Linked DNA regions of Homo sapiens: regions 1, 3 and 4 are each linked to region 2. Evidence: fine-mapped expression QTL. A gene starts in region 2. Each other region holds a variant in brackets. All regions are shown on one strand. Distances are from middle to middle.

Evidence for each region.
Region 1: its variant is fine-mapped to the expression of TUBGCP5 in whole blood (TOPMed, PIP above 0.99).
Region 3: its variant is fine-mapped to the expression of TUBGCP5 in tibial nerve (GTEx, PIP above 0.99).
Region 4: its variant is fine-mapped to the expression of TUBGCP5 in whole blood (TOPMed, PIP above 0.99).

The regions. Positions count from the first base shown.
Region 1 is chr15:23,009,500-23,017,499 of GRCh38, forward strand. It overlaps TUBGCP5 (tubulin gamma complex component 5), which reads right to left. Exons shown (of 23, transcript NM_052903.6): 14 at 1,634-1,832; 15 at 446-634. Among named protein-coding and RNA genes, the nearest start is that of TUBGCP5, 26 kb to the right of the region's middle. RefSeq lists an enhancer at 3,564-4,474. The variant G/A (reference allele first, on the strand shown) is at 3,603.
Region 2 is chr15:23,035,310-23,043,309 of GRCh38, forward strand. TUBGCP5 (tubulin gamma complex component 5) reads right to left here and starts at 4,260. Exons shown (of 23, transcript NM_052903.6): 1 at 4,089-4,260; 2 at 1,790-1,843; 3 at 1,588-1,696. The coding sequence starts at 4,234.
Region 3 is chr15:22,921,652-22,929,651 of GRCh38, forward strand. CYFIP1 (cytoplasmic FMR1 interacting protein 1) reads right to left here. Exons shown (of 31, transcript NM_014608.6): 12 at 6,255-6,377; 13 at 4,331-4,456. Among named protein-coding and RNA genes, the nearest start is that of CYFIP1, 55 kb to the right of the region's middle. The variant C/T (reference allele first, on the strand shown) is at 3,987.
Region 4 is chr15:22,985,402-22,993,401 of GRCh38, forward strand. It overlaps a transcript of TUBGCP5 not described here. Among named protein-coding and RNA genes, the nearest start is that of CYFIP1, 9.0 kb to the left of the region's middle. The variant G/C (reference allele first, on the strand shown) is at 4,016.

The DNA.
Region 1 (8,000 bases), 26 kb before region 2:
TCTCGTGATCCTCCCACCTCAGCCTCCCAAAGTGCTGGGATTACAGGTGTGAGCCACCGTGCTCGGCCTAATTGCCATAATTTTTATGAACTTTACAAAGTTCATATGTGGGTATGTATATGCCATATTTATGGATATGCATAGTTTAAAAAACTAGTCATCTATCACTAAGTAATTTAGTGTTTTTCATTCTGATAACAAACTTTGTAATTTTTCTACAAGCTTTTTCTGTATTTCTTTTGGGAAAGATTCTCAGAAATAAAGAATTAAGTTTCAAAACATAGTTAAGAAAATATTGATGGTCAATTGATTTCTCTTAGAAAATTGTTTACTGTATATCCATTTCCTACTCTAATAAAAATTGAAATAGGTTTTAAAATAATCTCAACTGTTCTTCAAGTACAATCAACTATTTACTACTTCCAAAATTAAATTACTCTTTTACCTGTAATCTTTTTTTAGAGTTTGCATGAGATTTCCACAGCAATCTAGATACTGCTTGTCAATATGAGGATAGAGGCAGGATCTCAGCGTTAATTCAAAAGTCTGGCATGTCACAGATTCCGATGATCTATCCACACATACATCACCACCAGCAAACTTCTCGTGAAAGTCACTCTGCTCCAAATACATCCTTCAAGATAAAAATGTGAGTCTTCTTTTTATGAGCTGCTGTCAACAGAACTCTCTTAAATCAAAACCCTGAAGTTCCATTTTTACCTTTAGTCTTGAAGTTACCAACTATTACAGAAAGAGAAAAATCTTTCTCCCAAAAATATCCTTTGAGTGAACCAGTCTCTTGAAGTTGCCACTGACTTAGGGTCAGGTACTAGAGCTGGTCTTTCTAGTGATTAGGGCTGGACACAGCAAATGCTGGCCATTAGACAACCGGGAACTGTGTGGGTATTAATGACTTACTCTAATGGACTAAGTGCCTAAAAGCAGCTTAAGCCCAGGACATATTATATGCCAGTGGGGACCCTGACTCAATGGGTGTCCAGGGCCCACTCATGGCCCAGAGTTTCAGCATCTTCTGGGTAAATGATGACATTTCCAGGGGCCCGAGGGCACAGACAAAAGTTGTACCACATGGTGGCAGGGCCAAGTCTGCAGACTTCCACAAACGACATGGAATCCAAACTATACACCTGAAGTAGGTGAGCACAACATCTTGTATTCTGCTTGTTATAAAGGATAGGCATGGCATGGTGGCTCACACCTGTAATCCCAGCACTTTGGGAGGCCGAGGTGGGCAGATCACCTGAGGTCAGGAGTTCGAGGCAAGCCTGGCCAACAGGAGGAAACCCCGTCTCTACAAAAAATACAAAAATTAGCGGGGCATGGTGGCACATGCCTCTAGTCCCAGGTAGCTGGGAGGCTGAGGTAGGAAAATTGCTTAACCTGGGAGGCAGAGGTTGCAGCAGTCAGCCAAGATCACACCACTACACTCCAGCCTGGGTGACAGACTGAGGCTCCATCTCAAACAAACAAAAAAAAAAAAGGAAAAAGAAAAAAGAAAGGATAGCCTACAAGAGTTTTTGTTTTTAGCCCTACCTGCCAGAAATAAACAGTTAGCAAACATTGCACAAATGATGCCATTTCAATTACTGATAACCTTGCAGGTGTGTCTCACCTTGCAAAGTTAATGGCAAGCAGTGGATCATGAACATCATCCAGTTCAAGATGGCTTTCAGCAATGGACTGCATCTTCATCAGGTTCTCCTTGGTTGCCTGTTGCTCAGTAAGAACCTGTGGAGTGGAATCTTCTCCATGTCGAAGACGGGACTGTACAGATTCCAGAAAGAGAGTGTATAAACTTTTTCTTTCTGCATCTGAAACATAAAGAAATATGTAAGGTGAACTAAGTTCTGTTTAATCATATTAAGTAACATTCTGTTTAATCATATTAACATTAACAATATATTAAGTAACAAAATCTATATATTTATATATAAATATTAAATATATGTAAATATTAAATATATATATTTATATATAGTAACAAAATAATATATATTTTTTGAGATGGAGTTTTGCTCTTGTTGCCCAGGCTGGAGCGCAATGGCGCCATCTTGGCTCACTGCAACCTCCGCCTCCCGGGTTCAAACAATTCTCCTGCCTCAGCCTCCCAAGTAGCTGGGATTACAGGCATGTGCCACCACGCCCGGCTAATTTTATATATTTGTTTTTTAGTACAGACGGGGTTTCACCATGTTGGTCAGGCTGGTCTCAAACTCCTGAGCTTAAGTGATCCACCCGCCTCAGCCTCCCAAAGTGCTGGGATTACAGGCGTGAGCCACTGTGCCTGGCCCAAGAAATATTAAATAATATCATGTCCGGGTGCAGTGGCTCATGCCTGTAATCCCAGCACTTTGGGAGGCTGAGGCGGGTGGATCACTTAAGCTCAGGAGTTTGAGACCAGCCTGGGCAACATGGTGAAACCTCAGCTCTACAAAAAAATTAGCTGAGTGCAGTGGAATGTGCCTGTGGTCCCAAGCTACTTGGGAGGCTGAGGCACGAGAACTGCGTGAGCACTGGCAGGTGAAGGTTGCAATGCGCTGAGATCACGCCACTGCACTCCAGTCCAGTTTGGGCAATAGGAGTGAAACCTGACTCAAAAAAAAAAAAAAAAAAAGAGTAAGATCCTAATCAGCACACTTGAAATTTATTACAATACTGCATAACACTATGGTAACCCTGATAGGAGTCGCAGTCTCATTGGAAAAAACACTTCTGACAGTGGCCCTGGGAAGCTCACTACATAAGAAGGAAATATTCCACAAAGTGAAAATAAGTATTGCATCTACTTATTTCAAGTAGATACAATAATATAATTAACATAACATTGAGATGATTGAGATGTATAAATAAGGTCACATCTTTATCTTCCAAGCCTTTTTAGTCAGTTGATAAAACTTTTTTTTTTGACATGGAGTCTCACTCTGTCACCAGGCTGGAGTGCAGTGGCATGATCTCGGCTCACTGCAATCTCTGACTCCCTGGTTGAAGCGATTATCTTGCCTCAGCCTCCTGAGTAGTGGGGAATTACAGGCCCATGCCATCATGCCCAGCTAATTTTTGTATTTTTAGTAGAGATGGGGTTTTACCACGTTGACCAGGATGGTATCGATCTCCTGACCTCGTGATCTGCCTGCCTCAGCCTCCCAAAGTGCTGGGATTACAGCATAAAACTTTGAATATATTAAATTGCATCATTTTCTTGAAATTTATGATCGAGTCTGAACTGCTCATAAGAAATTCTTATCAGCCATGGTTCACGGCCCTCAAGGGCTAAACGCTGCATTGCATTAAGAAATGCCAGAAGGGCTGGTTGTGGTGGCTCACGCTTGTAATCCCAGCACTTTAAGAGGCGGGTGGATCAGCTGAGGTCAGGAGTTCAAGACCAGCTTGGCCAACATGGTGAAACCCCATCTCTACTAAAAACACAAAAAATTAGCCGGGCGTAGTGGCTCACATCTATAGTCCCAGCTACTTGGGAAGCTGAGGCATGAGAAATCACTTGAACCTGTGAGGCAGAAGTTGCAGTGAGCCGAGATCATGCCACTGCACTCCAGTCGCCAGCAAGGTGGCTGCCTGGAGAC[G/A]TCTGGTGTTCCTCTCCCAACAGCAAGAGAGGACCAAAGCAACGAATCAACAGTTAAGATCCGACTGGAGGCTGGGGGTGGTGACTCACACCTGTAATCCCAACACTTCAGGAGGCCGAGGCGGGCGGATCATGAGGTCAGGGGATCGAGACCATACTGGCTAGTATGGTAAAACCCCGTCTCTACTAAAAATACAAAAAAATTAGCCGGGCACGGTGGTGTGCGCCTGTAGTCCCAGCTGCTGGGGAGGCTGAGGCAGGAGAGAACCCAGGAGGCGAAGTTCGCAGTGAGCCGAGATCGCGCCGCTGCACTCCAGCCTGGGCGACAGGGAAAGACTCCGTCTCAAAAAAAAAAGATCCGACTGGAGTTGAAGGGCGAGTGCTGGAGTGCAGAGGGGGAATGTGACACAGTGTTGGTGACTGGAGGCCCAGGAGGGCAGTGTGGAGGCTTCCAGCCTCTGCAGCTTCGCAGAACAGGCTGGTCTGGAGTCAAGAAGGACTTCCCATTGTAGGGTAAGGGTAAGCAGAAGAAACCCACCAGCCCCCACAAACACCTACAGTCATTACTACAGGAGGATTCCACAGTTCCCACGAGCTCTGAGCCCAGTTTGGAGAGCTGCTGGGAATTCACGCAGCTGCCTTGCCCCGGGTTAGGGGCACAAGGTGTGCCTTCCCCACCCACCCCTTTGAGCCAAGCTGTTGCAGCATGGCACCATCTTCAGACCAGAGCCACCTCTGGAGCACGCCCTCCTCTGGGCCAGTAGCTGCTGCACCTCTCCTGCACCCCAGCCACTGGGGCTCCATCCTCATTCCACCAAGGCCACAGGGATGGCTGAACACCACAACCCCAGCTATGTGGAGCCTGGGCCCAGGATCGACTGGTGATTCTGGTCCTGCACAGCAGAAAAACCAGCCCCTGCCACTGCACTTTCAGACAGAGGAACAGTCTGGCAGCCCCAACAGACCAAACCCATCTTTGAGCTGGCCAAATTGCTGTGCCATCTCTAGAGGGTGGGAACAGACCCCTGAGCTTCCTACCAGCTGACATGCCTCCAGGCTGGTGAAGCAGTTACAGACCTTTGCCCAGGAACTGAGAAACAGCCCCACAGCATCAACCCCTTGCAGACAGGCCCGTGGCCTACCCAGTGGCCCTGGGTCAGCATTCAGGGTCTGAGAAACAGTTTCAGAGGCTGCCCTGGCAGGCATGTACCTAGGCTTCTTGAGCGGCCTTGCACGGCATCTTTGGTTGGAGAAGAAGCCCCATAGGCAGCGCCTGGGAGTCACAGGCCAACAGAGCGGCCACAGGCCTGCATACTGGGCCTGCCAAACAGCCCTGTGGTCTGCCCTTGGTGGGCATGTTCTGAGCCAGCTGGCACCCATATCCCAAACCTGAGAAAGAGCCTTGAAGACCACCCCCAGTAATCACACCCTCATGCCAGCCAAGCAGCCTTCCACCCACATGCTGGGCCTCAGAAGCAGCCTCATGGGCTGCCACTGGCAGATACATACCTAGGACGGCCAACAAGCCATGTGACCATGTCCCAGGACTGAGAAAGAGCCCCTTGAACTGTGCAGGCAGACATGCACCCAGGCTAGCAAAGCAGCCTTGTACCCACATCCTGGGCCTAAGAAACAGCCTTATAGGTTACCCCCAGCAAACATACTCCCAGGCGAGCAAAGAAGCCTGTGCTCATGTCCAAGGCTTGAGAAATGACCCTGAGGGCTGTTCTCATGGAGCCCCTGGCCAGAAAACCAGTTTTGTGCCTACATCCTAGGCCTGAGAAACAGCCCCTTGGGCCATTGCTGGCAGGCAAATAAACCTATAGGCTGGCCAAGCAACCACATGCTCATGTTCCTGGCCAGAGTAACAGCCTGTGGTCCCAAACCCTGAGCCAGACCCCACCTTGGCCAAACCACTGTGTACATGCATGTACCCCTAATCTGAGAAACAGTCCAGCAAGCCCATCCCAGCAAAGCTGTGCTACTGTTTGTTTTTTGTTTTGGGACAGAGTCTTGCTTTGTTGCCCAGGTTGGAGTACAGTGGTATAATCTTGGCTCACTGCAAACCTCCGCCTTCCGGGTTCCAGTGATTCTTGTGCCTCAGCCTCCCAAGCAGCTGGGATTATAGGCATGCGCCACCACATCTAGCTAATTTTTATATTTTGGGTAGAGACAGGGTTTCACCATGTTGGCCAGGCTGGTCTCAAACTCCTGGCCTCAAGTAATCCACCTGCCTTGGCCTCCGAAAGTGCTGGGATTGGCTGGGCGTGATGGCTCACGCCTGCAATCCCAATACTTTGGGAGGCCGAGGCGGGTGGATTGCTTGAGGCTAGGAGTTTGAGATCAGCCTCACCAACATGGTAAAACCCGATCGCTACTAAAAATACAAAAATTAGCCAGGCGTGGTGGCACATGCCTGTAATCCCATCTACTTGAGAGACTGAGGCAAGAGAATGACTTGAACCCAGGAGGCAGAGTTTGCAGTGAGCCGAGATCATGCCACTGCACTCCAGCCTAGGTAATAGAGCAAGACTGTCTCAAAAAAGAAAGTGCTGGGATTATAGGCGTGAGCCACCACGCCCAGCCAACTGTGCCACTGTTGCCACAAACCCCCTCACTGTAGGCCACTGAGGCACTTGCAAACATCACTAAAGTGGATTACAACTGAAGAAAGTACATGGAGACTATACTACTGCATTTGTCCAGAACCAAGGTGAATGCATCCCACTGAACCCACACTCCAAGACCCATTCATATGAATAACTCTTTACAAAACGTACTCCATAAAATTGGAAAAGGTGACTTTCCCACCAGATGTGTAGAAATCAATGTAGAAATACATCAAACATGAAAAAGCAAAGAAACATGACACCTCCCAAGAAAACCAATAATTCTCTAGCAAGAGACTACAATGATATAGGAAATGCCGGAAAAATAATTCAGAATTAAAATCTTAAGGAAACTCGGTGAGATACAAGAGAACTCGGTGAGATACAAGACAGTACAAATAAACACTCAACAAAATCAGGAAAAGAATGATTTGAATGAGAAATTCAACAGAAACAGATGTTTAACAAACAAATTTTACAGTGAAAGAATTCAATGAATGAGGCCAGGCACGGTGGCTCACGCCTGTAATCCCAGCACTCTGGGAGGCCAAGGCGGGCAGATCACTTGAGGTCAGGAGTTCGAGATCAGCCTGGCCAACATGGTGAAACCTCGTCTCTACTAAAAACACAAAAAATCAGCCGGGTGTGGTGGCGGGTGCCTATAATCCCAGCTGCTCAGGAGGCTGAAGCAGGAGAATCACTTGAGCCAGGGAGGCAGAGCTTGCAGTGAGCCCAGATTGCACCACTGCACTCCAGCCTGGGTGATGGGAGTAAAACTCTGTCTCAGGAAAAAAAAAAAAAAAAGGCAAATGATCTGAACAGACATTTCTCCAAAGAAGTAATACAAATGGCCAAGAAATAGATGAAAAAATGCTCAGCATCACTAATTATTAGGGAAAATGCAAATCAAAACCACAATGAGGTATCATTTCACCCCAGTCAGGATGGTTATTTATCACGAAGACAAAAAATAAATGCTGGTGAGGATGTGGAGAAAAGGAAACTCTTACACAATGTTGGTGGGAACATAAACTAGTACAGACACCATGGAGAACAGTTTGGCGGTTCCTCAAAAAACTACAAATAGAACTACTATATGATATAGCAATCCCACTGGTGGGCATTTATCCAAAGGAAAGGAAATCAGGATATCAAAGAGACATCCGCACCCCCATGTTTACTGCAGCACTATTCACACAGCCAAGACATGGAATCAACCTAGGTGCCCAACAACAGATGAATGGGTAAAAAAATTGTGAGATATATATATATATATATGTATATATCTTGAAGATAAAAGAGTGAATCCTGTTGTTTGCAGCAACACTGATGGAAATGGTGGACATTAAGTGAAATAAGCCAGGAACAGAAAGTTAAACACTGCATGTTCTCACTCATCTGGTAGCTAAAAAATGTTGATCTCGTATTAGTAAAAAGTAGAACAGGATACCAGATGCTGGATTTTGTAGGGGGAAGGGAGAAAGAGGAAGATATTTGTTAAAGGATACAAATAGCTAGCTGGAAGGAATAAGTTCTAGTGCTCTGTATCACTATGGGATGACTATAGTTAATAATGTATTATAGAGTTGCACATAGCAAAGAAGAGGATACTGAATGTCCCCAACATAAAGAAGTAGTAAATGTTTGAGATGATGGAAGTGCTAATTATCCTGATCTGATCACTATATATGTATCAAAACATCACTATGTACCCCATGAATATGTACAATTATTATGTCAATTTATAAAAATAATAAAAGAAAAGAAATGGCAGGGGATTACTTTTTAAA
Region 2 (8,000 bases):
ACAAAGTGACACTCAGTCTTAAAAAAAAAAAAGAAAAAAAGTGTGAAGTTATTGCTACACCACACAGCAATCCCCAACCGTTTTGGCACCAGGGACTGGTTTTGTGGAAGACAATTTTTCCATGGACTGTTGGGTGGGGGTTGGTTTCAAGGATGAAACTGTTCCACCTCAGATCATTAGGCATTAGATTGTCATAAGGAGCATGCAACCTAGATCCCTCAAATGTGCAGTTCACAATGGGGTTTGCTCTCCTATGAGAATCTAATGCCACCGCTGATCTGACAGGAGGTGGAGCTCAGGCAGTCATCCTCACTCACCCCACTGCACCTCCTGCCATGGAGCCCTGTTCCTAGCAGGCACATATTGGTACTCGTCCACCATGTGGGGGTTGGGGACCTCTGCCATAACAAACACATCCAAGATGCCACACAGCAAGAGAAAAGGATAACCAATCCCACCTTGTGTAAGTGGGTGGGGGCTGTGGACACAGAGGGGATAGTGAAGCAGACAAGACTGCACAGCCTTACTGATTCCCTCAACAAACATGCACTGTCCACTGTGCTCTAGGTGTCCGGGAACAAATCAGACACAGAGCCCTATGCCTGTAAAATGTGCCTTTTAAAGGGGGAGACAAGAAAGGAACTATAAAGAATTGAAATACATAGCATGTGTGGAGACAGTGCCTGAGTTTAATATTAAAACGTGAGCTTCCTCAGGCAGGAGAAAGGGAAAGAACTATGTAGGCACAAGATGTGTCACAGCAGAGCTAGGGAATGTGGTCCCACCGTGTTCAGGGAACCCACAGCTGTTTCCATACGCTTGCCATCCTTGGTTTGACCTCTAGGGGGCTACAGACTCAGCAGCTAAGGTCAGCCATGTGGGCTCTGCTTGCTTATGTGACCCACCCCCAATAAAAATGCTGGTCACCAAGGCTCAGCCGAGTGGCCCTGGGGGGAGTGGAGGGTAATACTTTGCACATGTTGTCATATACTGTTACTGAGAGAATTAACTGCATCCCCAGGTGACTCCACTAGGAAGGAACATTTGGACATGCGTGCCTAGCTTCTCCTAGACTTTGCTCTAAGCACCTTTTCCCTTTGGTGATTTTAATCTGTATCCTTTCACTGTAATAAACTATTAACAGTGAGGATAACAGCTTTTTTTTTTTAAGTTCTGTGAATCCTTTGAGCAAATCATTATGCCAAAAGGTGGTCTTGGGGAATCCCCCAAACAATATGAAAGTATACCAGGCATCTAGTAAGCATCTACAGACAGTCACTGCCAAGTGCTGAGAAACCATTTGAAAGTTTTGAGATACCCAAACAATGCTACTATTTGTATCAATCTCTGATCTCTCTTTCCTTAGTAGGACTGAGGTGAAAAAATGATTAAAAACAAGCTCTTTCTTTCATCACAAACTGAGGCATATCTGGTTTGATGGCAATATTTAAGTAAATTTCCAAGAGATCCCGTTAGCCAGTAGATAATACTAAAATAGAATGTTTAAACAGTAACTGAAACAAATTGACGATAATCAGATAGGAAACAGTAAAATACACAGTGGAGATCTCATAATTGAAGGCATACCTTTATTTCCTTTATACTGGGAAGTGGTGCATTTAGAAATTCCTCCGTTAATCTCTTCCAACTAGCAGCTTTGCTTAGATCAGAATGAATGACAAATTTTTCATAAATTCTAAAATATAAGAAAAGATTATAAAGCTATCTTAAAAAGATCTATAAGAAAATACATATATTTCTGGATGCGTATATATACACACTGACTTACCCTTCGATTGTTTTTTCTATTTTGTGGCTGTTGACATCCAAGAAACGATGAAATCTATTAAAGACAAAATGCAATTCTTATGCCAACTCTGTCACACAGGTAAGTGAACTCATCTCATGGCCCTCCATATCCCCCATATGCTCTGTACTCAGCTACACATTTCCAGAATGGAGTGTACCTTGTCCTCCGTTACCTCCACCATCAGGCAGGCAAATAATCACCGTGTCCGAGACTGTGCAAGCATCCTTTCTCCAGCACACAGGTTCTTCCTGACCCTCCCAACCTTGTCCTCTGGCTCCTCTGTCTTCCCATAAGCCCCTGTACCTAAGTCCAGCTGAACACATTCTACATCAGGTGGTCCCAACCTTTTTATGCCATAGTGAGGCCCGGTGAAGCCTAAGGACCCCTTCTCTGAATAACATTTTTAAAGCCAAAAAATAAATACAAAGGAATCCCATTATACTGAGATACAGTTGTCAAATATTTAAAGAAGTTTAAGATATGGCAAGAAATGTTATTTATGAAAGTATTAAATAACAAGATTTAGCAGTAGGTCCAATTAACTACCATTAAAGTAACAGTAAACAACATTTACAAATATCTACAACTCTGATGTGAAAACAGTATGCGATTTCTACTGGTGATAAAGTCATAGGTAGGCTAATACTGCTATGGTTTGCTGCCTTCATTCATAATAGAAGGAGATGCTACTTTTCAGTTAGAGAAAAGTGAGCTTGCTCAGTGCAAGCTCCGCCTCCTGGGTTCGCGCCATTCTCCTGCCTCAGCCTCCCAAGTAGCTGGGACTACAGGCGCCTGCCACCACGCCCGGCTAATTTTTTGTACTTTTAGTAGAGACCGGGTTTCACCGTGTTAGCCAGGATAGTCTCGATCTCCTGACCTCGTGATCCACCCACCTCGGCCTCCTAAAGTGCTGGGATTACAGGCGTGAGCCACCGCGCCCAGTCCACAATTTTCAAGAATGTAAACATGAACTATTCATTTTTCTGATGGTTTAAAGCATCATAAAATTACAGCACAGCCTATGCAACTAATGTATATGTACATAGCATAGCCTATGCAAAAAATGTTTTCCATTTTTTAGTATCAAAGCGAGCAATCTGTACTTAAATAAAATTACACTACTGAAAAACACATGATTCTAGGCCAGTAAATGGGTGAATGGAACACCACTTTACCTATTATAATTTAGTTCCTGAAATCTGTGAATGAAAATAGTAACCTCCAACGTCTCTCCCAGCTCTAAAATGATGACAATCTGCCTACTGTCATTTAGAAATATTAGTAGAAAAATAACTTGGATTTCAGCATTTAAGTTTCTGTATTGTATAACCTATTTCACACATTGTTTATTTTTATAAGTTACACTTAAGAATTCAGTTTATTACTTCAGAAACTTGGCATGGTTTAAAAGAATCTGAAAGCCCCGTATTCCTATTATAAGCCAACTAGACACTTTATGGCTATGATCATTAAGGTAACTAAGATTACGGATTTTGAAAAACTGTTCATTATTCAAGAAGATTTTTACTGAAATTAAACAGGTAGAATATTAACATTAACATTTTTTTAGTAATAATTTCATTATGGGTAATGACTCTAAAAGTATTAATTTACATCTCCCATAAAGAAAAATAGGAGATCTCACTTTACGTAAATATCTAAATTCTGTAAGTCTTTAAAAATTAGTTACAAGAGAAACTGCATTAGAAATTGTATTAGGTGACTCAGCGTGCTACGTGCCAGGAGCTGTGCAGAGATGCAGCATTCTAGCTGGAGTGGAAGTGGAGGAGACAGTAATGACAGGTTAAATCAGTGTCATGACACGCGTTTTGGAAAAAGGAGAGCAGGGTGAGAGATCTTACACTGGGCTGACCAGGGAGCAGGAGTCAGTGAGAATACAATCTCTTTAATTTAAAAAAAAAAAAAATTATAAACATGGAGTTGCTACGTTGCCCAAGCTGGCCTGGAGTCCCGCCTGGGCCTCCCAGAGCGCTGGGGTTGCAGGCGCGCGCGCCGGCCGGCAAGAAACCCAGTTCACGCTTTCCCCGTGACGATCAGGACGCGTCCCGGGTAACACGCCCTGTGGTGCGCAGGGCACCGCGCCGAGAGCGCTGGCCGGCGGGGAGCAGGCGGTGGCAGGGCCTGCGAAGGCTCCCTGAGGCCGCGCCCGCCTCCGCCCCATGCCCTGCCCCAGCGCGCCCCGACCCCGGGCTGTGCGGGACCCACGCGCGGGCTCCGGGCTGTGGCCGGGAACCCGCCCGCGCGCCGTGCCCCACACCTGAAGTTGGACCAGGCGAAGTTTAGGGCGAGCTGGAAGTTGGGGTCTGCCTCGTCCTGGAGGCCGGCGACACCCCGGACGAGCTCCCGCACGTCGCGCTCCTGCTGCGCGTCCAACCGACTCCACGGTGGCCCGTGCCGCGCCATGTTCCGCGCTCCTGCAGCGCGCGTCTAACGAATTGGTGCCTGTCGCGCGAGAGCTCGGGCTCCTGCCGCAGTCGCCTCCGGAGCTGGCGGCATTCTCGCGAGAGTTCGCGCTCCCGCGCCGGGCGACTTCCAAGCCGACCGCTATTCTCGCGACAGTTCGAGCTCCGGCTGTGGAGGGTACTGCCTGGCGCTGTCCCGTGGTGGGGACTGGAGTGCGCATTTTCTGGTTGCCCGACGGTACGTTTTCTACTGTACTCAGAGTTAGCTGGTGTCATCGTGAATCAGATACATAAGGGTCTCTGGCCGGCCTCGGTGACAGTCAGTGATTTTGAGAGCAGCCCGTTAGGTGCCCGGTCAGCAAATGCATTGGGACCCGCCTTTCCAGGAACCCTGAACTGCTTACCTGCTGAACCCTCCCGGCCCTGCAGCTTCTCCCTCCAGTGATGGTCTCTGCGGATTTCCGTGCCCCATCCACACAACACAGTCACGCTACACACATCCATGCTACACAACCAGCATCAGCGAAGCAGCTGTCCCGACCCGCTAGTAGTGCCTGCTGGCCCTTGCCTCGCCTGTTCCTCAGGGGCGGCTTGGGGGACTTCATGACCCCACCTGGCCAGAGGTGCTGAGGGGGGGAACTTCATAAATGTCACCTGGCCAGAGGTGGTGGGGGAGATTTCATAACCCCACCTAGCCAGAGGTGCTGGGGGGACTTCATAACCACACCTAGCCAGAGGTGCCGGGAGGACTTCATAACCACACCTGGACAGAGGTGCTGGGGGGACATCATAACCTCACCTGCTCAGAGGTGCTAGGGGGTATCATAATCCCACCTGGCCAGAGGTGCTGTGGGGCCATCATAACCCAACCTGGCCAGAGGTGCTGGGGGGACATCTTAACCTCACCTGGCCAGAGGTGCTAGGGGGATATCATAATCCCACCTGGCCAGAGATTCTGGGGGGACATCATAACCCCAGCTGGCCGGAGGTGCCGGGGGGCGGGGGGAACTTCATAACCCCACCTGGCCAGAGGTGCTGGGGGGACATCATAACCTCACCTGGCCAGAGGTGCTAGGGGGTATCATAATCCCACCTGGCCAGAGATGCTGGGGGGCCATCATAACCCCACCTGGCCAGAGGTGCTGTGGGGCCATCATAACCCCACCTGGCCGGAGGTGCTGGGGGGCGGGGGGAACTTCGTAACCCCACCTGGCCAGAGGTGCTGGGGGTGACTTCATAAATGTCACCTGGCCAGAGGTGCTGGGGGGGATTTCATAACCCCACCTGACCAGGGGTGCTGGGGGGACATCATAACCTCACCTGGCCAGAGGTGCTGGGGGGTATCATAATCTGACCTGGCCAGAGATGCTGGGGGGACATCATAACCCCACCTGGCCAGAGGTGTTGTGGGGCCATCATAACCCCAGCTGGCCGGAGGTGCTGGGGGGCGGGGGGAACTTCTTAACCCCACCTGGCCAGAGGTGCTGGGGGTGACTTCATAAATGTCACCTGGCCAGAGGTGCTGGGGGGGATTTCATAACCCCACCTGGCCAGAGGTGCTGGGGGGACATCATAACCTCACCTGGCCAGAGGTGCTGGGGGGTATCATAATCCCACCTGGCCAGAGATGCTGGGGGGACATCATAACCCCACTTGGCCAGAGGTGCTGTGGGGCCATCATAACCCCAGCTGGCCGGAGGTGCTGGGGAGCGGGGGGAACTTCATAACCCCACCCGGCCAGAGGTGCTGGGGGTGACTTCATAAATGTCACCTGGCCAGAGGTGCTGGGGGGATTTCATAACCCAACCTGGCCAGAGGTGCTGGGGGGACATCTTAACCTCACCTGGCCAGAGGTGCTAGGGGGATATCATAATCCCACCTGGCCAGAGATGCTGGGGGGACATCATAACCCCACCTGGCCGGAGGTGCTGGGGGGCGGGGGGAACTTCATAACCCCACCTGGCCAGAGGTGCTGGTGGTGACTTCATAAATGTCACCTGGCCAGAGGTGCTGGGGGGGATTTCATAACCACAGCTGGCCATAGGTGCTGGGGGAGATTTCATAACCCCACCTGGCCAGAGGTGCTGGGGGGACTTCATAACCACACCTGGCCAGAGGTGCCAGGAGGACTTCATAACCACACCTGGCCAGAGGTGCTGGGGGGACATCATAACCTCACCTGGCCAGAGGTGCTGTGGGGGGGTATTATAACCCCACCTGGCCAGAGGTGCTGGGGGGTATCATAATCCTACCTCGACAGAGGTGCTGTGGGGCCATCATAACCCCAGCTGGCAGGAGGTCCTGGTGGGCCATCATAACCCCACCTGGCCAGAGGTGCTGGGCGGCGGGGGGAACTTCTTAACCCCACCTGGCCAGAGGTGCTGGGGGTGACTTCAAAATGTCACCTGGCGAGAGGTGCTGGGGGGGATTTCATAACCCCACCTGGCCAGAGGTGCCGGGGGGACTTCATAACCCCACCTGGCCAGAGGTGCCGGGAGGACTTCATAACCACACCTGGCCAGAGGTGCCGGGGGGGCATCATAACCACACCTGGCCAGAGGTGCCGGTGGGACTTCATAACCCCACCTGGCCAGAGGTGCCGGGGGGACTTCATAACCACACCTGGCCAGAGGTACCGGGGGGACATCATAACCACACCTGGCCAGAGGTGCCGGGGGGACATCATAACCTCACCTGGCCAGAGGTGCTGGGGGTGGGTATTATATCCCCACCTGGCCAGAGGTGCTGGGGGGGACGTCATAACCACACTTGGCCAGAGGTGCCGGTGGGACTTCATAACCCCACCTGGCCAGAGGTGCTGGGGGACATCATAACCCCACCTGGCCAGAGGTGCCAGGGGGGACATCATAACCCCACCTGGCCAGAGGTGCTGGGGGACATCATAATCCCACCTGGCCAGAGGTGCTCTGGGGCCATCATAACCCCACTTGGCCGGAGGTGCTGGGGGGCGGGGGGAACTTCATAACCCCACCTGGCCAGAGGTGCTGGGGGTGACTTCATAACTGTCACCTGGCCAGAGGTGCTGGGGGGGATTTCATAACCCCACCTGGCCAGAGGTGCTGCGGGGGACTTCATAACCACACCTGGCCAGAGGTGCCGGGAGGACTTCATAACCCCACCTGGCCAGAGGTGCTGGGGGACATCATAACCTCACCTGGCCAGAGGTGCTGGGGGGTATCATAATCCCACCTGGCCAGAGATGCTGGGGGGACATCATAACCCCACCTGGCCAGAGGTGCTGTGGGGCCATCATAACCCCAGCTGGCCGGAGGTGCTGGGGGCAGGGGGAATTTCATAACCCTACCCGGACAGAGGTGCTAGGGGTGACTTCATAAATGTCACCTGGCCAGAGGTGCTGGAGGGGATTTCATAACCCCACCTGGCCAGAGGTGCTGGGGGGGACTTCATAACCCCACCTGGCCAGAGGTCCTGGGGGACTTCATAACCCCACCTGGCCAGAGGTGCTGGGGGGACATCATAACTTCACCTGGCCAGAGGTGCTGGGGGGTATCATAATCCCACCTGGCCAGAGATGCTGGGGGGACATCATAACCCCACCTGCCAGAGGTGCTGGGGGGCGGGGGGAACTTCATAACCCCACCTGGCCAGAGGTGCTGGGGGTGACTTCATAAATGTCACCTGGCCAGAGGTGCTGGGGGGATTTCATAACCCAACCTGGCCAGAGGTGCTGGGGGGACATCATAACCTCACCTGGCCAGAGGTGCTAGGGGGATATCATAATCCCA
Region 3 (8,000 bases), 110 kb before region 2:
ACTAAAAATACAAAAATTGGCCAGAAGTAGCTTGAACCCGGGAGGTGAAGGTTGCAGTAAGCTGAGATTGTGCCACTGCACTCTAGCCTGGGCAACACGCGAGACTCTGTCTCAAAAAAAAAAAAAAAAAAAAAGAAGCACGAGTTACCAGCATTAAGAATGAAAAAGGGGACATTAGCAGTTTATAGACAGATTAAGAGATTATGAAAAAATACTGTCATAGGATAGACAGAGGTCAATGGGATAGGATTAAGAGTCCAGAAGTTAACTTACAATTGATTTTCAACAGGGTACCAAAACAATTTGATGGGGAAAGATCATCTTTTCAACAAATAGTACTGACAACTGTATCTGCACATGCGAGAGAATCAAGGTGGACCCTTGTGCAGGAAAGGGTTAACTCAGCAGGCTGGGGAGAATGAAACTCCGCACATCCCCAAGAAAGGCCCATCTTCAGGACTGGCTGAAGTCATCCCAGGAACCAGCTCTGAACCTTGGGAGTGTCCTGCCTAGAGATTATGTTTTTGTGTGCCTGGGGCCCCGGGCCTACTGCTGTACCAGTCTGATCAGTCTCTGCTAACAAGGTGACTAATAGTGACCTCCTGTGTGTGTTTTGAGGACCTAGAGTCTGAGTAGCCAAGGTCAGCCACGTGACTGGCCCCCAGTAAAAACCCAGGACCCCAAGGCTCTGGGGAGCTGCCCTGGTGAGCCACAATTTGTGTGTGCTGTCACACATCATCGCTGGGAGAAATAAGCACGTCCCGTGCAATTCCACTAGCAGGCACAGCTGGAAGTTTACACCTGTCTTCTCTGGACTCCACTCCTGTGCCTTTTCCCTTTGCTGATCTGACTCTGTCTTTTGGCTGCAAGGAGTCATAACCTTCAGTGCAACAACTACCAAGCCCTGTGAGTCCTCCCAGCCAGTCAGGGGGATGGAGGGTGGTCTGGAGGGCCCCTCACACAACCTTGTCAAACGCTGTATAAAAATCCACTCAAAATGGATCATATATTTAAATTAGGTTTAAGTTAGGAGCTAAAACTATAAAACTTTTAGAAGAGGCTGGGCGTGGCGGCTCATGCCTGTAATCCTACCACTTTGGGAGGCAAAGGCGGGTAGATCACCTGAGGTGAGGGGTTCAGGACCAGCCTGGCCAACATGGTGAAACCCTGTCTCTACTAAAAATGCAAAAATTAGCTGGGTGTGGTGGCGCACACCTGTAATCCCAGCTACTTGGGAGGCTGAAGCAGGAGAATTGCTTGAACCTGGGAGGCAGAAGTTGCAGTGAGCTGAGATCATGCCACTGCACTCCAGCCTGGGTGACAGAGCAAGACTCTGTCTCAAAAAAGAAAAAAAAAAAAGACTTTTAGAAGGAAACACAGGAGTAAATCATCATGACCTGGGTTACACAATGATTTCTTATATATGACACCAAAAGCATAAGCAACGAAAGAAAAACAGATAAATCAAACATAATCAAAATTCAAACACTTTGTGTCTCAAAAGACTCCATTAAGAAACTAAAAGGACAATCATAGAATGGGAGAAGATACTGAAAATCCTATGGCTGTAAGGAACTGATATTTAGAATGTATAAGGAACTGTTACAACTCAATAATAAAAAAGATAACCTAATTAAAAATGGGCAAAGGATCTGAAGAGACATTTCTCCAAATAATGCACACAAATGGCCAACAAGCACATAAGAAGACGTTTAACATCCTTAGTTGTTAGAAAACCGCAAATCAAAAGCGCAATGAAATGAGATACCACCTCACACCCACTAGGATAGCTAGAATCAAAAAGACATACAATAACAAGTTTGGTGTGGATGTGGGGAAACTGGAGCCCTCACTTACTGCTGGTAAGAAGGAGAAATGGTGCTGCCACTATCTGGTAGTTCCTCAAAAGCTAAATGTGCTGTTATGATCCAGTAATTGCATTTCTAGCTATACAATCAAAAGAAATGAAAACCAGCATCTACACAAAAACCCGCACATGAAAGCTCATAGAGGCTGGGCATGGTGGCTCACCTCTAATCCCAGTGCTTTGGGAAGTCAAAGCAGGAGGATCACTTGAGCTCAGGAGTTCAAGACCAGACTAGGCAACACAGTGAGACCCCATCTCTACAAAAAATTTAAAAATTAGTCAGGCATGGTGGTTTGTGCCTGTGGTCCTAGCTACTTGGGAGGCTGGGGAGGGAGGATTGTCTGAGCCCAGAAGATTGAGGCTGCAATAAGCCATAATCCTGCCACTGCACTCCAGTTGGGTGACAGAGTGAGACCTTGTCTCCAAAAAAAAAAAAAAAAAAAAAAACAAGAAAAAGAAGTTCTCAGCAACTTCATAGTAGTGAAAAGGTAGAAATAACCCAAATGTCTATCATCTGATGGATGGATAAATACAATGTAACATATCCATGTAATGCAATATTATTCAGCAATAAACAGAACAAAACAGTGATACCTGTGTGAATCTTGAAAATTATGCTAAGTGGCCTGGCACGGTAGCTCACGCCTGTAATCCTGGCACTTTGGAAGCCCAAGGCAGGCGGATTACCTGAGGTCAGGAGTTTGAGACCAGCCCGGCCAACATGGTGAAACCTTGTCTCTACTATAAATACAAAAATTAGCCGGGCGTGGTGGTGGGTGCCTGTAATCCCAGCTACTCTGGAGACTGAGGCACAAGAATTGCTTGAACCCGGGAGGGAGAAGTTGCAGTAAGCTGAGATCACGCCACTGCCCTCTAGCCTGGGTGACAGAGCAAGGCTCCATCTTAAGAAAAATAAAAGGAAAATTATGCTAAGTGAAAATTATGCTTTGTGAAAGCCAGTCACAAAGGGCCACATATGGTATGATCTACTCATATGAAATGCCCAGAGCAGGCAAATCTACAGGGTCAGAAAGCAGAGTGGTGGCTGCATACGGTTGAGGGAGGGAAGAATGAAGGGTGGCTGATAATGGGCTGGCATTTATATTTGTTCTAAATTTGATTGTGACTGTACAACTCTGTGAATGTGCTGAAAGCATTGACTTTTACACTTCAAATGGGTGAACTGTATGGTTATGTGAAAAAAAAGCTTCTACCAAAATAAGATGAGAATTTACTATGAAAAACCTTATGTCAAAAAATCAGAAAATTTTGGCTGGGCGCAGTGGCTCACACCTGCAATCCCAGCACTTTCGGAGGCTGAGGCGGGTGGATTGCTTGAGCTCAGGAGTTTGAGACGAACCCGGGCAACTTGGTGACACCCCATCTCTACCAAAAATATAAAAATTAGCCAGGTGTGGTGGCATGCACCTATAGTTTCAGCTAATGGGGAGGCTGAGGTGGGAGGATTGCTTGAGTCCAGGAGGCTGAGGCCAAAACAGTGGTTTTTAACATTTTTATTACTTTTCACTGTTGTAGTGTTATTTTTTCTTTCTGAACATTTTTGACCCAAGGTTGGTTCATGGAGGTGGAACCCAAGAACACTGAGGGCCAACTGTATGAGACTTCTGTCAATTCTCCTGTCATGATCCATAGGATTGTTCATATCCTGATTAAAATCCTCACTGTGGGATGGGAAAAGCTGATTCTAAAATGAATATGAAACTACAGTGGGGAAGAATAGCCAAGGAAGTCTAGGAGACAGAAAGACGTGCTTTCTCATACACGGTAGATGACTACAAAGCTACAGAGTGGTGCTGGGATACCGACAGCAACTGACACTGGGTTAGAGCAGAGCAGAAACACAGCCACACATGCATTGTCACGTGACCAGCTACAAAGGTGGCAGCGTGAGGGTTGGACGGAATTGTTTCAAAAATGAATTTCAGGTGAATTTCGCATCTCAGTGTGAAAGCAGAGTGAAGTATCCAGAAAGCAATGCAGAATACCTTCACGACCTGAGAGTATGCAAAGATTTCTCAAACAGCACAGGAAAAGCACAGCTATGAAAGAAAAGATACCAGTTGATGCTGGAATGAAGAGCTGCCCATGGAAAGGCTCA[C/T]GAGGGGAGTGCAGCGCCTGCCTCACAGGAGAGCAAGACAGCTCTTCTCTCTCAGCAGGGGCCACATCTCTTTCACCTCCCTTCCCCGCACCCGACACTGCTCTCCATCCAGACGCAGGTCCAGGAGTCCAGATTCGCACCCAGGGAGCTTCAGTGCAGACCCAGGACCGACAACCACTGTTTCTCTAATGCGTTCTACTCTGACTACTCTGCCAGATGGAAAGGGGTGCCCACACAGAAGCAATGAGTAAACAGGCAGTTTTGTTCATGTTTTTGCTTTTGACAGAGAAGATGGTGTGAAGCTAGAGCGACATGAGGAAGAGCGAGCGGCCGAGCATCCTCACCTCCACTAGGGCAAACTTCTCCTCGCTGGTGTAGTTGTAGCGCGTGGCACGCTCGTACTCTTCAGCGCTGTCGGGGCAGTCCTTGTTGGAGTACTTGTCGGTGGGGTGCACAAGCTTCCAGGAATACTGTGGTGGCCGAAAGAGCAGAGGTGTTCCATATTGCATGCAAAACGCCTGGCTTCTGGTCTGACTCACACGATGGTGGCCAAAGCCAGGCCAGCCTTCAAACCTTTGCTGCATTCTGAAAGTCACACATGAGGGCGCACACACCGTCCATCTCCACAGATGGGCAAAAGACCCTGGCCCTGTAACCTCTCGTTTAAAAAATCTACCCGGCAAAATGGCCTGGATAGTGAGTGCTGAGTATCTAAGACTCTGGCATTTCATCATCATTTTAAAAAGGATTCTGGGCCAGGCACAGTGGCTCATGCCTATGACCCCAGCACTTGGGAGGTTGAGGCAGGAGGATCACTTGAGCCCAAGAGTTCAAGATCAGCCTGAGCAATATAGTGAGGCCTCATCTCTACAAAAAATAAAATAATAAGTAAGTAAATAAAGATTTTGCCTTTCAAATGACCATGTACTCTTCCAATTTGATAATTTTTATGTGATCAAAATAAATCACAAAAGGGAAAATCTTTCATTGCTTACAGGTATCCAAATCTTTATATGGCACCAGAAATAATTTACTAATGTTCAACAAAAGACATTGATGGCTGGAGCTCCAAAGAGAAAATGTTATCTTAAAAATGCAGGGCGTGAAGCGACATTAATGGGTACAAATGTACAGTCTGATATTAGAAATAAGACAGTGTTAGATAGATCAGTTAGGGTGACTATTAATTAAAATAATTTATGGTACATTTCAGAATAGATAGGGAAGAACTCGAATTTTTCTGGCATAAGGACAAATATTTATGGCGATGGACATCCCAAGCACACCAATTAGATCTTTGCAAACTGTATGACTGTATTAAATTATCACATGTATCCTGAAACTATGTACCCCTATTATGCATCAATACAAGTAAATATTTAAAGCAAAATAAAATTTAAATGAAAAAATGAGACTTGGCCAGGTACAGTGGCTCACGCCTGTAATCCCAGCACTTTGGAAGGCCCAGGCAGGCAGATGGCTTGAGGCCAGGAGTTTGAGACCAGCCTGGCCCACACGGCGAGACTGTCTGTACAAAAAAAACCAAAAAACAAAAAACTAGGCCAGGTGCGGTGGCTCAAGCCTGTAATCCTAGCACTTTGGGAGACTGAGGCGGGTAGTTCACCTGAGGTCAGGAGTTCAAGACCAGTGTGGCCAACATGGTGAAATACCATCTCTACTAAAAACACAAAAAAATTAGCCAGAAGTGGTGGTGGGCGCCTGTAATCCCAGCTAACTCAGGAGGCTGAGGCAGGAGAATCGCTTGAACCCAGGAGGCAGAGGTTGCAGTGAGCCGAGATCACGCCATTGCACTCCAGCCTGGGCAACAAGAGCGAAACTCCGTCTCAAAAAAAAAAAAAAAAAAAAAAAATTAGCCGGGAGCCGTGGTGCACACCTGTGGTCCCAGCAACTTGGGAGGCTGAGGCAGAAGGATCGCTTGGGGTGGGGAGTCAAGGCTGTAGGGACTTATGTTTGCACCACCGCACTCCAGCCTAAGCGACAGGGTGAGACTATCTCAAAAAAAGAACGACTTAAAGAAAATCACAATGGTACAAATTTAATTCTATCAAGATTTTTTTTAAAAAGGAGGCCCTTCATTTATTACACACATAAATGAGATGTACTTAAAATCACCTTGGAAACATATCTACTGATAGATATTCTCGTCTTTCTAGGGCCAAAGATAAAAAGCCCAAAGACCAAAAGTTAATGTGAATAAAGTGCCCGAGGCAGCTTTGGAGCGGGGCTGGGGTCGGGGACGGGGCCTACCACTTCCATCACGTGCGCGCTCCACTGCGACAACAGCTGCAGGCCCTGCAGCGCCAGGTCGAAGAGCTTGCGGTACTCCGCGTCCGTCTTCTGGGCCTCCTGGCGGCCCGAGCCCGTGACCACCTGCACAAGGCGGGCACGGCCCCGTGAGAAACCAGCGCCCCCACCCAGCTCCCCCCATCCCGGGATCCACCATGAGAATCCACCCCAAAGTCACACGTGTGAAAATAAGAAATGCAGGAGGCCAAGGCGGGCGGATCACAAGGTCGGGAGATCCAGACCATCCTAAAACGGTGAAACCCCGTCTCTACTGAAAAATACAAAAAAATTAGCTGGGCATGGTGGCGGGCACCTGTAGTCCCAGCTACTTCAGAGGCTGAGGCAGGAGAATGGCGTGAGCCCGGGAGGCGGAGCTTGCAGTGAGCCGACACTGCGCCACTGCACTCCAGCCTGGGCGACAGAGCGAGACTCCGTCTCAAAAAATAATAAATAAATAAATAAATAAATAAATAAATAAATAAATAAATAAAAAGAAAATAAGAAATGCTGTGGGTGCTGGACCCTCCTCCCGGGAAAATGGCGGCCAAGGGCGTGCTGCAGAGCACAGAGCAAGGGACAGGCCGCTGCCACAGCCACCGCCTGGGGGACCGCGGGCTGGGCGCGGGGCTGTTACACGCGTGGGCTTGGCGCACTTCCACTAGGCCGGGGAAGGGCAACACACAAGTCACGTGGGTTTGCTTCTATCAAATAACCACCCCCTAAATTTAAACATGTGACCTATGGGGAGGAAGGGGCACCGTGGAGAAGGCAGGCTTCTTTGAATATACCTTTTTATAGATGTGATATTAGAACCACACAAATATTTTATATATTTAGGACACAGAATTAAATGAGATCGGAAATGCAATGCCTAGAAGTCAAAAGCAAAATGAAACAATGGCGGGAACCTGCATGGAGCTCACAGCATGACCACTGAGAGGACCCTGAGCAGCTCTAAACACCACGGTGTGACTTAAAATCCTCTGAGTGAGGGGCCCGGTGCGATGGCTCATGCTGTAATCCCAGCACTTTGGGAGGCCGGGGCAGGTGGATTGCCTGAGGTCAGGAGTTCGAGATCAGCCTGGCCAACATAGTGAAACCCCATCTCTACCAAAAATATAAAAAAGTAGCTGGGCGTGGTGCTGCATGCCTGTAATCTCAGCTACTCGGGAAGCTGAGGCAGGAGAATTGCTAGAACCCAGGAGGCGAAGATTGCAGTGAGCCAAGATCCCGCCATCACACGCCATCCAGCCTGGGCAACAAGAGCGAAACTCCATCTCAAAAAAAAAAAAAAAAGTACCCTGAGTAAGAAGCTCAAGGGCAAAATCACCTGCAAAACAAATCATAAAACAATTTCTAGTCACTGTAATTAGTAGTGCTGGCATTGCTCTTTTAAGACTAGATTATGACCGGGTGCAATGGCTCATGCCTGTAATCCCAAAACTCTGGGAGGCTGAGGTGGGCGAATCACAAGGTCAAGAGATGGAGATCATCCTGGCCAACATGGTGAAACCCCGTCTCTACTAAAAATACAAAAATTAGCTAAGCATGGTGGCGTGCGCCTGTAGTCCCAGCTACTTGGGAGGCTGAGGCAGGAGAATTGCTTGAATCCGGGAGGTGGAAGTTGCAATGAGCCAAGATCACACCATTGCACTCCAGCCTGGGCAACAGAGAGAGACTCTGTCTCAAAAAAAAAAAAAAAAAAAA
Region 4 (8,000 bases), 50 kb before region 2:
GAGATGGGGTTTCTCCATGTTGATCAGGCTGGTCTCAAACTCCCGACCTCAGGTGATCCGCCTGCCTCGGCCTCCCAAAGTGCTAGGATTACAGGCATGAGCCACCACACCTGGCTGTATAATGAATATTCTTACCAGCTTATTTATAATCGCAAAAAACTAGAAACAACCCAAAGTGCACAAATAGGAGAATGGATAAACAAATACTGTTCATATAATGGAATATTACTCAGCAATAAAAAGGAAAGAACAAATCAAAAGGATTTGTTCTTGTGTTTTTCTATTTCACACTCATTAGGATGCCTACTATCAACAAACAGCTACTTGGGAGGCTGAGGCAGGAGAATCGCTTGAACCCAGGAGGCGGAGGTTGCAGTGAGCCAAGATCCTGCCACTGCACTCCAGCCTGGGCGACAGAGTGAGACTCCATCTCAAAAAAAAGAAATAATAGGCCGGGCACGGTGGCTCATGCCTGTAATTCCAGCACTTTGGAAGGCCGAGATGGGCGGATCACAAGGTCAGGAGATCGAGACCATCCTGGCTAACACGGTGAAACCTTGTCTCTATCAAAAATACAAAAAAATTAGCTGGGTGTGGTGGCGAGTGCCTGTAGTCCCAGCTACTCAGGAGGCTGAGACAGGAGAATGGTGTGAACCCGGGAGGCAGAGCTTGCAGTGAGCCGAGGTCACGCCACTGCACTCCAGCCTGGGCGACAGAGCAAGACTCTGTCTCAAAAAAAAAAAAAAAATAATAATAATAATAAAATAAAAATAAACAAAATAACAAGTATTGGCAAGGATATGATGAAATTGGAACTCTGTGTACTCTTAGTGGGCATGTAAAATGGTGCCACTATGGAAAACAATATGATGAAAAAAGTTTTTAAAAGGGGAAGAAAATGGATATACAAGTAGTATTATAAAATAGATGAACCTCAAAACTATTCTGTAATTTTCCACACACAAAAGACCATGTACATATTGTGGGATTTCATCTATATGAACTTCCATGACAGATAGCACCACTACTCACTGGTGACAGAAGTCAGAAATTGGCCGGGCGTGGTGGTTCACCCCTGTAATCCCAGCACTTTGGGAGGCCAAGGCGGGTGGATCACTCGAGGTCAGGAGTTCGAGACCAGCCTGACCAACATGGCGAAACCCCATCTCTACTAAAAATACAAAAAATTAGCCGGGTGTGGTGGTGGGTGCCTGTAATCCTAGCTACTCAGGGGGCTGAGGCAGAAGAATCACTTGAACCCAGGAGGTGGAGGCTGCAGTGAGCTGAGATTGCGCCACCGCACTCCAACCTGGGCAACAGAATGAGACTCTGTCTCAAAAAAAAAAAAAGAAAGAAAAGGAAGTCAGAAATCGTTAAATCGTTTGCTTGGGTGAGGTGGTCTGCAGGGAATAGGATGGACTGAAAAGAGGCGTGTAGGAAACTTCTGGGGACTTGGAAATATTCTGCATCTTTGTCAGGCTGATATTGACACAAGCATATTATGTCAGTCAGGGTTCAACCAGAAAAGCAGAATCAGTAGGAGATACATATTAGGAGATTTACTGCAAGGAATTGGCTTATGCACTATGGGGGCTGGCTCAGCTAGGATGAAATCTGGAGGGCAGGCCATCAGAAAGTTACTGTCCTGTGGCTGGGGGCGGTGGCTCACGCCTGTAATCCCAGCACTTTGGGAGGCTGAGGCAGGCGGACCACCTGAGGTCAGGAGTTCAAGACCAGCCTGACCAACATGGAGAAACCCCATCTCTACTAAAAATACAAGAAATTAACCGGGCGTGGTGGAACATGCCTGCAATTCCAGCTACTTGGGAGGCTGAGGCAGGAGAATCACTTGAATGGGGGAGGCGGAGGTTGTGGTGAGCCAAGATCACTCCATTGTGCACTCCAGCCTGGGCAACAAGAGCAAAACTCCATCTCAAAAAAAAAAAAAAAGAAAAGAAAGTTACTGTCCTGTTTTTAGGTTTCTGTCACGGTCACAACAAATTACTACAAATTTTTGGCTCTGGTAAACTGAAAAAGCATCCCCCAGCAAATACCTGTGTCAAATCCCTGGAACCTGTGGCTGTTACTACTATGTTGAAACCCCATCACCAAGATGATGGCATTAGGAGGTGGGGCCTTTGGGAGCTGACAGGTCACAAAAGTAGAGTCCTCATGAGTGGGATTTGTGCCCTTATAAAAGACACCCCAGAGGGGGCCAGGCGCGGTGGCTCACGCCTGTAATCCCAGCACTTTGGGAGGCTGAGGTGGGTGGATCATGAGGTCAGGAGATGGAGACCATCCTGGCTAACACGGTGAAACCCCGTCTCTACTAAAAATACAAAAAATTAGCCGGGCGTGGTGGCGGGTGCCTGTAGTCCCAGCTACTCGGGAAGCTGAGGTGGGAGAATGGCATGAACCCGGGAGGCAGAGTTTGCAGTGAGCCGAGATTGCGCCACCACACTCCAGCCTGGGTGACAGAGCGAGACTCCATCTCAAAAAAAAAAAAAAAAAAAAAAAAAAAAGACACCCCAGAGAACAGCCTTGTCCTTTCTGCCATGTGAAGACACAGCCAGACAACAGCCACTGAGAACCAGACAGTGGGACCTCACCAGACACCCACTCTGTGGTGCCTTGATGTTGGGCACTCAGCTTCCAGAACTATGAGTAATACATTTCTCCTGTTTATAGCCACCCAGTCTATGGTGCTTTGTTATAGGAGTCCTGACGGACTAAGACAGTACCTTATATGAAGAAAGAGTCTTAGCGGATCTAAGTTCTTGAGATGGGATCATCTTAGATTATCTGAAGGGGCCCTAAATCCAATAAGCAGTGTGCTTACATGAGACACTGAGAGCAGACCCAGAAAAAGAGGCAGTGTGAACACAGAGGCAGAGATGGGAGTGAAGCAGCCACACAGCCACAAGTCATAGAATGCTGGCAGCCCCCGAAACTGAGCAGGTAAAGAATGGTGGAGGCAAGGCCCTATTGCTGCCTTGAATTTTGGCCTTCCAGCCCCCAGAACTTGAAGATAATTAATATCTGGTTTTTTTGGCCGGTTGCGGTGGCTGAAGCCTGTAATCCCAGCACTTTGGGAGGCCAAGGCGGGCGTATCACGAGGTCAGGAGATCGAGACCATCCTGGCTAACACAGTGAAACCCCGTCTCTACTAGAAAATACAAAAAAAATTAGCCGGGCGTGGTGGTGGGTGCCTGTAGTCCCAGCTACTCGGGAGGCTGAGGCAGGAGAATGGCGTGAACCTAGGAGGCAGAGCTTGCAGTGAGCCGAGATCGCGTGACTGCACTCCAGCCTGGACGACAGAGCGAGACTCCGTCTCAAAAAAAAAAAAAATCTGTTTTTTTGTTGTTTGTTGTTTGTTTGTTTTTTGAGACGGAGTCTTGTTCTGTTGCCAGGCTGGAGTGCAGTGGCGTGATCTCAGCTCACTGCAACCTCCGATTCCCTGGTTCAAGCGATTCAGGCATGCACCACCAGGCCCAGCTAGTTTTTGTGTTTTTAGTACAGACAGGATTTCTCCATATTGGTGTAGAGGCCACTCACATTCCCGGATCCTGCTCCTTCCCTTGACTTTTTCTGTCCTCAAAGCCCTCAGCTGGCTCTGCCCTCAGGCTGCCCTGGCCTCACACCTTTCTCTGACACTGTGCTTCTGTCCCCTCTTCCACCTTTAGGAGCCGTGTGACGACATCCCCAGATAATGCAGGGTAACGTCTCTATCTCAAGTCAGTGGACTAGCAACCCTAATTCCATCTGCAATTTTAATTCTCCTCTTGCCATGTAAACTAACATAGTCACACGGCCCAGGGATTAGGAAGCAGACAGCTTTGGGGCTACCATTCCGCCTTGTCTCAGGAAGCTGGAGCTCTGCCTCAGTGTCCTCTAACCCATTGAATCCGGCCCAGCTGGACTGCCTGGGATCATCTCCTTTACTTAAAGTCAACTGATATGAAATTTAATCACATCCAGTAAATACCTTCTAGCAACACGAGGTGTGTGTTTGATA[G/C]AACAGCTGGGACAGCCTCACTAGGTTGACACAATAAAAAGACCACCACAACCCACCCCCTGTTAACTTGGCACCCATACATATCCCCTTAAATCATACTTGTCTTGGTCTGTCTTTTTAAATTTATGATTTATTTATTTATCTAGAGACAGGGTCTCACTTTGTTGTCCAGGTTGGCCTTGAACTCCTGGCCTCCAGGGATCCTCCCACCTGGCCTCCCAAAGTGCTGGGATTACAGGTGCAAGTCATGTGCCTGGCCAACCAGGAGGAACTTTAATTCCTTCTTAACTGATCCCTCCATTCCACAATAGCATGATCTCAGCTGCTATATTTGTACAACCTGATCTCTTATTTCTTGCCACACCTTGTTCAAGCTGGAGTGGGCACCTGACCCAAGTTGACTCGCTGTGGGAACCTTGGTTGGGAGCTTAGAGTTGGAACTTTCTCACTCACATCACAGCCTCCTAACTTCAGGACTTTTATTTCTTCTGCAGTGAAAACATGTGGACTCCAACCAAGAACCCAACCACACGTCTCCCTGGTGCCCGCCTGGATCTCTCACCTCCTGCCCTGGGGCTTCCCTGTCACCAGGAGGCATCAGAGTCCTCTGAGATCACACATGAACCATGCAGCTGTGCACAGAGTTAACATTCCCTGCACCTTTGACTAATGAGAGGCACTCACAGGCAGATTCCTCTCTTTCCTTCCTGATGCAGTCCACATGGCTTCTAGGGACATCCCGAGAGGTGGGGCAGGCACACTTAGCAATGCCATCTTACTGAGATGGCCCCATATCCATCAGCACTCCCCCTCCTTCTCCCACTCCTCCCCCTCCTCTTCCCCTCCTCTTCCATCTCTCTCCTCCTCCTGCTAGGGCACTCTCTGACTCCCACTACGGGCACTGCACCCCATCTCAGAGTAGAGGCACCTACGGCTTTGTCTCAGGTTGTATTTCTGGGGAACCCAGGCCAAGGCTGGAGCCAAGAACTGGTCACGTGCATTTGGGATCTGTGAGCATCCACCTTCCAACCACTACAGGAAAAGCACAGCAAGGAAAGGTGAGAAAGCAGAAGTAACAGGTAGAAAAACAAATACCAGCAGAACAGGGAGACAGCTCTCCCCGAGCAGGAAACACAGCATGCATTTTTGGATTAAAATTCCTCCATTCCCTCACCAGACACCAACTCTGTGGTGCCATGATCTTGGGCGCTCAGCTTCCAGAACTGTAATAAATTTCTCCTGTTTAGAGCCACCCAGTCTATGCTGCTTTGTTATAGCAGCCTTAACAGACTAAGACAGTTACCTTATGTGAAGAAAAAGAGTCTTAGCAGATCTAAGTTCTTGAGATGGGATCATCTTAGATTATCTGAAGGGGCCCTAAATCCAATAAGCAGTGTGCTTACAAGAGACACGCAGAGAACAGACCCAGAAAGAGGCAGTGTGAACACAGAGGCAGGGATGGGAGTGAAGCAGCCACACAGCCACAGTCATAGAATGCTGGCAGCCCCCAGAAACTGGGGAGGCAAAGAATGGCGCGGCCATGGCCCTATTGCTCCCTTGAATTTTGGCCTTCTGTCCTCCAGAACTTCAAGAGAATGAATATCTGTTGTTTTAAGCCACCAGGTTTATGGTAATGTGTTACAGCAGCCACAGGCAACAGTATAAGGACTTCCTTATAATAAATTACTTTTTTTTTTTTTGAGACGGAGTCTCGCGCGCTCACCAGGCTGGAGTGCAGTGGCGCGATGTCAGCTCACTGCAACCTCTGCCTCCCAGGCTCAAGTGATTCTACTGCCTCAGCCTCTTGAGTAGCTGGGATTACAGGCGCACACCACCACACCCGGCTAATTTTCTATATTAGTAGAGACGGGGTTTCACCATGTTGGCCAGGCTGGTCTCGAACTCATGACCTCAGGTGATCCGCCTGCCTCGGCCTCCCAAAGTGCTGGGATTACAGGTGTGAGCCACCATGCCCAGCCAAATTACTCTTTCTTAACTTAATGATGCCATGAATTGATGTGGTGGCTTTGCAGCATGTGGAGCTGGCTAAGCTGACCCAGGTTTACTAGAGTTCTTCCTGTGTTTCTGCAAGACCATGAGGGAGGCGCTGGCGGAGGCTTGGGGAGAGGCAGGGAGCTGCCACTGTGTTGTGGCTCACACGTGTTGTGGGTCTGACAGCTTACACTGTTAACACCACCATGGCCAGGACTGCCACTACTGCCTTCTTCTTGTCAACCTAAAATAATCAAAAGGAACAGAATCTAGTTTAGAGAGTTTATTCAAGCAAAAAGTTTGAGGATGGGCCACCTGGGAAGCACCCATCTCAAAGAACAGAAGTCAGTGTTCCAAAGTGTAGATGTTTGGGAATGCTTATTTAGACAAAGGTTAGGGAAGTGTAACAAAATTTCATCATCTTTCTGTGGAAGACTTCATGCATAGTTATGATGATCTGATTAGTCAAGTTGGTCTTTTTCTTCCAGGCAAGGCATATTTAACATTCCACACTGAGGTTGTACTAGTGATAGGGTCTTGAGCACCGTCTGGTCCACATTAGGTACCGGACAGCAAAGGAGGCAGTTCATCTACAACAAAACCAGTGATTGGAAGTGGGGAGGTCTGGTCTCTGGTCTCTCTTAGTCATTTACAGAACAAGAACAATGAGGAAGAGAGTGAATCTGAGAAGAATTGCAGTCGTACGACCTGACAGTCTCCAGGGCTCAACTTCCTCCCTGGCGTAATAAATCCAGACAGTCCTGAAGTTTTACTTTCATTGACTCTCTGGATCCTGTGGCTCCCGAAGGAGGCATCTGGCTCATCTTCATGATGAGAGGCCCTAGCTTCTGCAGCACCTCCACACCACCAAGGCCAGAAGCAGCAAGAACTGACGCAGGTTTAGGTCCCTCCCAAACCTCCTGTGGACAGTAGGCTCCAGCGTCGGATGCAGACAACAGGCAGCCCTATGGAAACTGACGAATCAGTTTACACAATTAACTGTGTAAGAGCAAAGCCCTGCAGCAAGTCCACGATTATCCACAGGTATGGGTGTATGGGTAATATATATATACACACATATATATGTATGTATATGTGTGTCACACACACACATGTATATTAATGGCTCTGCTCTTGGACTGATACAGATTTTGGTACAGAGAGAGGATGCTGCTGTAGCAAAACCTAACAGGTGGGCATGGCTCTGGGACCAGGGTTTGAGGAGAGTGTTGATGACACTAAAGTGCTTTGAACACACTGTTCTTAGACTTTGGACTTTGAGGACATTGCTGAAGAGGGCTTAAAAGAAAGTGAGAAGAATGTTGTTATTGGAAATTGAAGGAAGACTTTCACTAAGTAGCAGCAGAAAGTTTAGCCCTGCTGTTACCTGACGTTACATGGATAGGACAGAATATACATAATAAACGGGTGACCTAGCTAATGAGATTTTCCAAACAAAGTATTCAAGATGCTGCCTGGTTTCTTCCTGCTGGGTATAGTAAAATGTGAGAGGAGAGCATTAACTGAGAGAAAGATTTAAAAAAAAAAGGAGACAGAATTAATGGTTTTGAAATGTTTTAGCCTCCCCATACGGCAAATGATGCTAAAATAAGAAAATGACTATCGAGCAAGGATAAACTATATGGCACTGCCAAGAAAATGTGCTCTAGAGACGATGCTCAGGATGTGATTGGAAACTCTTTATTTTTGAGATTGAGTCTCGCTCTGTCGCCCAGGCTGGAGTGTAGCGGTGTGATCTCAGCTCACTGCAACCTCCACCTCCCGGCTTCAAGCGATTCCCCTGCCTCAGCCTCCTAAGTAGCTGGGATCACAGGCATGCGCCACCATGCCCGGCTAACTTTTGTATTTTTAGTAGAGACAGGGTTTCACCATGTTGGTCAGGCTGGTCTCGAACTCCTGACCTCGTGATTCGCCTGCCTCTGCCTCCCAAAGTGCTGAGATTACAGGTGTGAGCCACCGCGCCCAGCTGGAA